Homo sapiens: one gene and its partner. The protein of the gene in region 1 interacts with the protein of each later gene in a pairwise test. Each region holds a gene or a part of one and is shown in the gene's direction. Other genes may lie near its edges.

Region 1 (3,500 bases):
CTTGAGCCTGGGAGGCAGAGGTTGCAGTGAGCGGAGACTGCACCACCGCACTCCAGCCTGGGAGACAGAGTGAGACCCTGTCTCCAATATATATATATATTAAATAAATGGTTAAGAGCTAACCAAAGCATATAGAGGAATAGCTTTATAGCAAATAATGTAATGTGGAAATGCATAGGGCAGGATAGAACTTTGCAACTTCAAGAAAATAGAACACAGGAGGCTAATGCCTGTAATCCCAGCATTTTGGGAGGCCAAGGTGGGAGAATTCCTTGAGCCCAGGAGTTTAAGTTTAAGACCAGCCTGGGAAAAGTAGCAAGACCTCATCATTATGAAAAAATTAAAAATCAGCCAAGTGCAGTGGTGCTTGCCCAGAGTCCTAGCTACTCAGGAGGCTGAGGCAGGAGGACCCAGCATGAGCACAGGAGTTCAAGGCTATGGTGAGCTATGATCATGCCCTGCACTTCAGCTTGGGTGACAGACCAGAATTCCATCTCAATTTTTTAAACGAAAATAGAAGAAAGACAGGCGATTGGAACAAGAGAAGACTGAATAAGAGTGGTGTCATAATTGGAGGGGTATAAAGGGGTCAGGTCTTGAAAGGACTGGCAGAGGACTTTGAGGAGATTAGAGTTTGTCTAAGCTCTAGAGAAGATCTTGAAGAATTTTTGGCAGTGAGGTAAGGTTATCTAATTTATGTTTATACATATCTTTCTGAATATTTTGTAGATAATTTGTTGGAGTAGTGAAAGGGAGGGAATGAGAGGATGGATGCTATTTGCAGTGGTTGAGCCATAAATGGGCATTGGGTTAGTCTCAGATTATGACAGTGAAAATGGTGAAAATGGACAAGATCCGAACATACTTTGGATATTAAATCTAAAAGGCCTGTTGATAGAGGGAATATGGATTTATGAAGGGAATAAGAAGGAAATGCCAAGCCTGTCTCCAGCGTTTCGAGTTTAGCAATTGCTTGAATGGCTGTGTTATTTAATGAGATAGTAGCATCAAGAGGAGAAATAGTTTTTCAGAGTGGATGAAGTTTTGATATTTAGATTATTTAATATTGAGATTCTTCTGATTTATGCAGTAAGGAATATAAGATAGGCATTAAAAATAAGGTGCAAAACTTATTTTTAATCCAAAGCTTAAAAGAAATGTCAAAGCAGGAAACAAAATACACCAGCCATCCATACAGATGGTACTTAAAACCGCAGAGAGATGAGAAGGTCCAGGATTGAGTCAAAAAGAATCATCTTTTGTTGTGTGATCAACCACTCCAGTTTGCCTAAGATGAGGTTTTCCTGGCATGTGAGACTTTCAGTGCTACACCCAGCAAAGCCCTGGCAAACTCGATGAGTTGATTATCCTATCTGTAGTTCTGATGAGAGAATATCTAAGAAGACATATTTACCTAAGCCAGACACCAGACTAGTGACTAGTGGTCTGCACCACTAAAATTAATAAAAATAAAAAGGCTAAGTTTTCTCATTGACTTTTTTCATAAATTAGTAGTGAAGAGAGAAAGGGAATAGAGGGAGAGGTGAGAGAAAAGAAAGGTAAGAAAACACATTGACCTAGTATCTCAGCCCCAAAATATCCTAACCTATTCATTTCAATATCTTCCTTTTGGGTGAAGGAAATAGGAAAGAGCCACTTCAATTTCCTCTGTGATTAGAGGTTAACAAATTATTCCATTACTATTCTTTATCCAAAACTTATTTAAAAGTATTATTTGTGACACTCACTTGAAAAGCACACAAAATATTCTGTCCCACCAACTGATAGTCACATTTTTTTAAAAATTCCCTTTTGCAGGTCTAGAGAGCCTGGTGCTGACCTACGTCAATGCCATCAGCAGTGGGGATCTACCCTGCATGGAGAACGCAGTCCTGGCCTTGGCCCAGATAGAGAACTCAGCCGCAGTGGAAAAGGCTATTGCCCACTATGAACAGCAGATGGGCCAGAAGGTGCAGCTGCCCACGGAAACCCTCCAGGAGCTGCTGGACCTGCACAGGGACAGTGAGAGAGAGGCCATTGAAGTCTTCATGAAGAACTCTTTCAAGGATGTGGACCAAATGTTCCAGAGGAAATTAGGGGTATATTTGGTGTTCTACGTCATGAGAGGCAGAAAAATATGGGCCCTTCATGGGAAAATAATTCTTTCTAGACCCCAAAATAGTTACACTCAGTTATGTGTACATATTTGAAATAATCATTAAAAGACTAGAATGTGCATAGCCTTAGACCTTTAAAAAAAGACACCTAATTTTTTACTAAAATTTGCTTTTGTTAGTTTTTCCTCTCTGGGTCCCATATTTTAAGAAAGTAAGTAGATGGTACAACTGCATTGTTAAAGACTATTTTAACTTATTTTGTCCTTTTAAATTAAAAAATACATTGTTTTTATGTTCCCTGGTAATTATCAGTGGGGACTAAATTATTTTTAAATAACCCTAATAATTTTTTTAAATGTGAGCCAATGGTAAAATATTCAGAAGGCCAAGAAAGAGAAATTAATTATATAAATTTTATTAGAGAATGTTTTTAATGTCTGCCTCATTCCAAGTGAACAAAGTATTTTTGCATGCAGAATGACCACTTGACAAATGAAAGTCCTTTCCCTAGCTAGGAAGGCAGGATCTTATAAATGATACGTTGCTACAGTCAGAGGTTCTGGTGAAGCTAGATAGCCGATGTCAGCAATTGTCACCCTTCCAACCTAAGGAGGAAAGAGAAAGCTTCATAGTTAAGTTATCTTGAGTGATTTAATGTAGATAAATGTGCTGTTCTATGAGACTTTCCAAATACTGAAAATACCTATGGCACAATCTTCATTACTTTCATTAGCCCTATGCTGAGAAAATACACAAAAATATTCTTATGTTAAAGAATGTACTAAATAATCATGTACTCCTTACTGAGCACTTCTAAAAAGTCCCCGGGCTTAATACTTTACATCACCTCATATAACCCTGCAGAGAAATCTGTGAGATAGGTATTGTTCCTCTGCTGCACAGACAAGGAATCCTCAGTTCACAAAGACTGAGTGTCACAAGCCACAGTGTAGTGTATCCGGGAACTCCAGGCAGGCTGCCTGACTCCAGTGTTTGTGCTCAGAACTATTCCTGAAATGAGAGACTTGGAAAGATAAAAGTTTCGTATGAAATAGTGTATGTGCTTTGAGAATCATTCTCTGAAACAGGAAAACTGGGAGAAAGGAGCTTTAGGAAATCACAAACAGAGAAGTAGATAAATTTCTGCAATAAGCACAACTTAGGGATATTCTAGGATCTAACAGCAATGTGAGGAGCATGGCCCTATTTAGAGGGCCACAATTTCTGAAGGAGAAGCATTTTCCAGTCTCCACATAGTTAACATCCTCCTCATGGCTTTACTGAAACATCTGTGCTGTTTTGTCACTTCACAGGCCCAGTTGGAAGCAAGGCGAGATGACTTTTGTAAGCAGAATTCCAAAGCATCATCAGATTGTTGCATGG
Region 2 (3,500 bases), on another chromosome or scaffold:
GTGTTTTCAGTAATATTTTGTAGGTGATTTTCATTTTGTTGGCATTTTATTTATAATGCTGATTTTTTGTTACTACATTGAAGTTAGAGAATATGATCTATATAATTCTGTATTTCAGAATGTATTGGGATGTTGAGACTTTTCTTATGGCCCAATATGTGTGATATATTTTGAAATATTTAATATACACACATGTAGTCCCTATAGGGTACAATTTTAATAACTGTGTTATTGTCTTATTAATCACATTGCTCATGTAATATCCTTGTTTCCTTTTGAGGATTCTGATGATTGTATTTCCGTCTATTTTTCCATGCATTTTTTCTGCTTTTAACTTTTTAACTGCATCTTTTTTTTTCACTATAAATTTTAGAGGTAATTTTCCCACCACTTAGGGTACATTTATATTTTCCTTTTGATGCAAGATTTTATCACAACCTCTTTTCTGAGCTTTTCTCACCCTTGTCATTTTTTGTGTGTTACTGATCTTTAAACAAGCGAGATCCATTCAGGCAGAATGGCTACATCTTTTACTCGCCTGTTTTCTGTCCCCTCTCTCTCCTCTCCCCAGCCATCAAAGAGCTATCTTGATAACTTTTAAAATTATCTTTCACAACAGGCACTGTCTTTAAACACAGAGGAAGACATTCATCGGGCTTTCCAGTCGCTTCTCACTGAAGTGAACAAGGCTGGCACACAGTACCTGCTGAGAACGGCCAACAGGCTCTTTGGAGAGAAAACTTGTCAGTTCCTCTCAGTAAGTTGAATCAATAGAACAATAAAAGTTGCATTCAACATACCTGGTGATATAGAGTCTGGGAGAAAGACCCTAGAGAAATTGAGAAATTTATGTTAACCAATTTAAAAAAATTGCACTATTTTTTTTTCTAAGATGGGGTCTCACTACGTTGCCCAGGCTGGTCTTAAACTCCTGGTCTCAAGTGATCCTCCTGCCTGTTGGGATTACAGATGTGAGCCACCACGCCCAGCCTAAACTTCTTTTTTTTTTTAAAGACTGCAATTCTATAATTATACCTTGCATTAGTATTGCAAAAGTAGTCTCTACTTTTCTTGAAAGGTAAAATTGAAAGGTAAAATTCTCAAGTTCATTTCTGGTTATTCAGGGTTCAATACATACCTATTCACAAACTCTGATATTTTAACATATCTTCATATGATCACTTTTAAAGAGTTATGTATATTCTTTTTATTAAAAAAAGATAACATATTTAGAATTTTTGGAAGTTTGCTGACATTTGTATTTAGCAATGCAGCCTCACTGAACATTTTTCTCTCCAAAGACGTTTAAGGAATCCTGTCTTCAATTCTACCATGCTGAGCTGAAGGAGCTTTCCTTTATCAGAGCTGCAGAAGAGTCCAGGAAACACATCAACACCTGGGTCTCAAAAAAGACCGAAGGTCAGAATGACAAGTTATTGCACCTTCCTCCCAACCCGTCCTCCTCCTGCGGCTCTTCCTATTCCTCCTTCCCGCCTCTTATATCCTCTCTCCTCCTCCTCTCCCTCCTATCCCTCCTCCCTCTCCTCACCCACCTCCACCTCTCCACTCCGCCCCCTCTAATTTCACGGGTGTTTCAGATGGTCAGAGTAGTGTTGACTGGCAGGGCCTCCTGGCATACTGAACCTTGATGGACTCATAAAGGTTCTGATCAGACATTCAGGTTTTCAGCAACAGAGATTTACTTTTGTCTATTCTCCCAGGACCAGAGTAGCTGATACAAATGTCAAAAGAGGGCCAGCCACGGTGGCTCTCGCCTGTAATCCCAGCAATTTAGAAGGCCGAAGTGGACATATCACTTGAGGTCAGGAGTTCGAGACCAGCCTGACCAACATGGTGGGACCCCCCCCCGCCCAACATCTCTACTAAAAATACAAAAATTAGCCAGGTGTGGTGGCCCATGCCTGTAATCCCAGCTGCTTGGGAGGCTGAGACATGAGAATCACTTGAACCTGGGAGGCAGAAGTTGTAGTGAGCTGAGATCATGCCACTGAACTCCAGCCTGTCTCAAAAACAAAAAACAAACAAAAAAACAAATGTCAAAAGAATCTCAGGCCAGGTTTCCAGTTTAATAACTTGCATTAAAATATACTCTCCCTGGCCTGTAACATTCACATGTCAGGTGACTCCATTGTCTCTGCGAGAAGGAGATTGGTGGACAGATCTTGCCTGAGGTATACACTTGGGCTGCCTCTTCCTAGGTTCTGGGGGACCTCCATCACCATTACCTTTACCTGCTAAGGTCACTCCTGACTTTTCATGTCTTCCACTTAAGCTCCTTTAGTTTGACTTGATAAGCCTACATTTGATTGGTTAACTGCCGACCCTCTCTCAGGGCTGATCAGTTCCACAGACTGAAAATACCCTCCATTTGGGGTTGAACCTTATTCATCTACATTTCAGAAAGTGACGTGTTCCAGTCTAGGCCTCCAAGACCAATGATGGTCTGATGAACCATTCAGACTCCTCTGCGCCAATTATGCTTAGTACCACCAGGAACATTTCCATTTCTGTGAATAAATGAGACGGTAAAGAATGGGAGACGTTCTTCGCTTAAAGTCTCAGCAGTTGTTTCCCGCATTCCTGCTTGGAGTATTTACCACGGATGCTCTCTTCAGGCAGTGGGTTAGCAGGGATGCCCTCAGTTCATTGAAACAGTACCACTTGATCTCCAGGGAAAGAAGGGGTGATCTTTGTTTGCCCACATCCTCTTTTCCAGGGATGCCTAGTGCTTTGTTGAGGGGATTCAGCAGGAATATCTCCTCCAAAAGCTTCTGGAAACTCCCCATGTGCCCAATGTCAGCTCTTCCCGCTTTGAGCCGTCCATTCTGGTTGCTTCTGACATGTCCATGTATAGTCACAGAATGTTAGAACTGGGTGTGATCATGAAGGGTTGGATCAAACACTCCAATTAACCATGTGAGACAAACACCCCTTCAGCCTATCACATTTCCTGCTGGTCTTGTTCTCCAACCTGGTGTAATTTTTCTACTTTGTACCAACCTGCTTTCCTCGAGTGACTTAGGTATCTTTCACCATCCTCAACTTGGTGGATGTTCTCAAGGTGTCAGTAATCATGAATACCACTCATATGTGCTGTTTTTATTTCTCTACATAACAACCCAAACTCAGCAAAGTTGAAAACAGAAGTTTGCTTCTCAACTAATGATCCAGGATCATCCAATGCATCAGGTTCTTATAAAAAGCAACTGAATGTAGTCTCTACTTTTCTTGAAAGGTAAAATTGAAGAGTTGTTGCCGGGTAGCTCAATTGATGCAGAAACCAGGCTGGTTCTTGTCAATGCCATCTACTTCAAAGGAAAGTGGAATGAACCGTTTGACGAAACATACACAAGGGAAATGCCCTTTAAAATAAACCAGGTGGGGGAAGCTTTTTAAAATCCTGCTAGTTTGATGAAGAAGTTGAATGGAAAGATTTAACTTTGTAAAAGTGTAAGTGACATAAGCGTAAGCCAAAAGGA

The links. The genes of interacting proteins can lie anywhere in the genome.
Region 2: the proteins of GBP2 (region 1) and SERPINB9 interact in a two-hybrid assay, tested with the Homo sapiens proteins (one large-scale study listed by BioGRID and IntAct).

Annotation. Positions count from the first base shown.
Region 1 is NC_000001.11:89,112,615-89,116,114, reverse strand, and holds part of GBP2 (guanylate-binding protein 2), read left to right. Parts: intron 1-1,818; coding exon 1,819-2,099; intron 2,100-3,430; coding exon 3,431-3,500.
Region 2 is NC_000006.12:2,893,310-2,896,809, reverse strand, and holds part of SERPINB9 (serpin B9), read left to right. Parts: intron 1-619; coding exon 620-757; intron 758-1,301; coding exon 1,302-1,419; intron 1,420-3,256; coding exon 3,257-3,399; intron 3,400-3,500. UniProt on the Homo sapiens protein: Granzyme B inhibitor.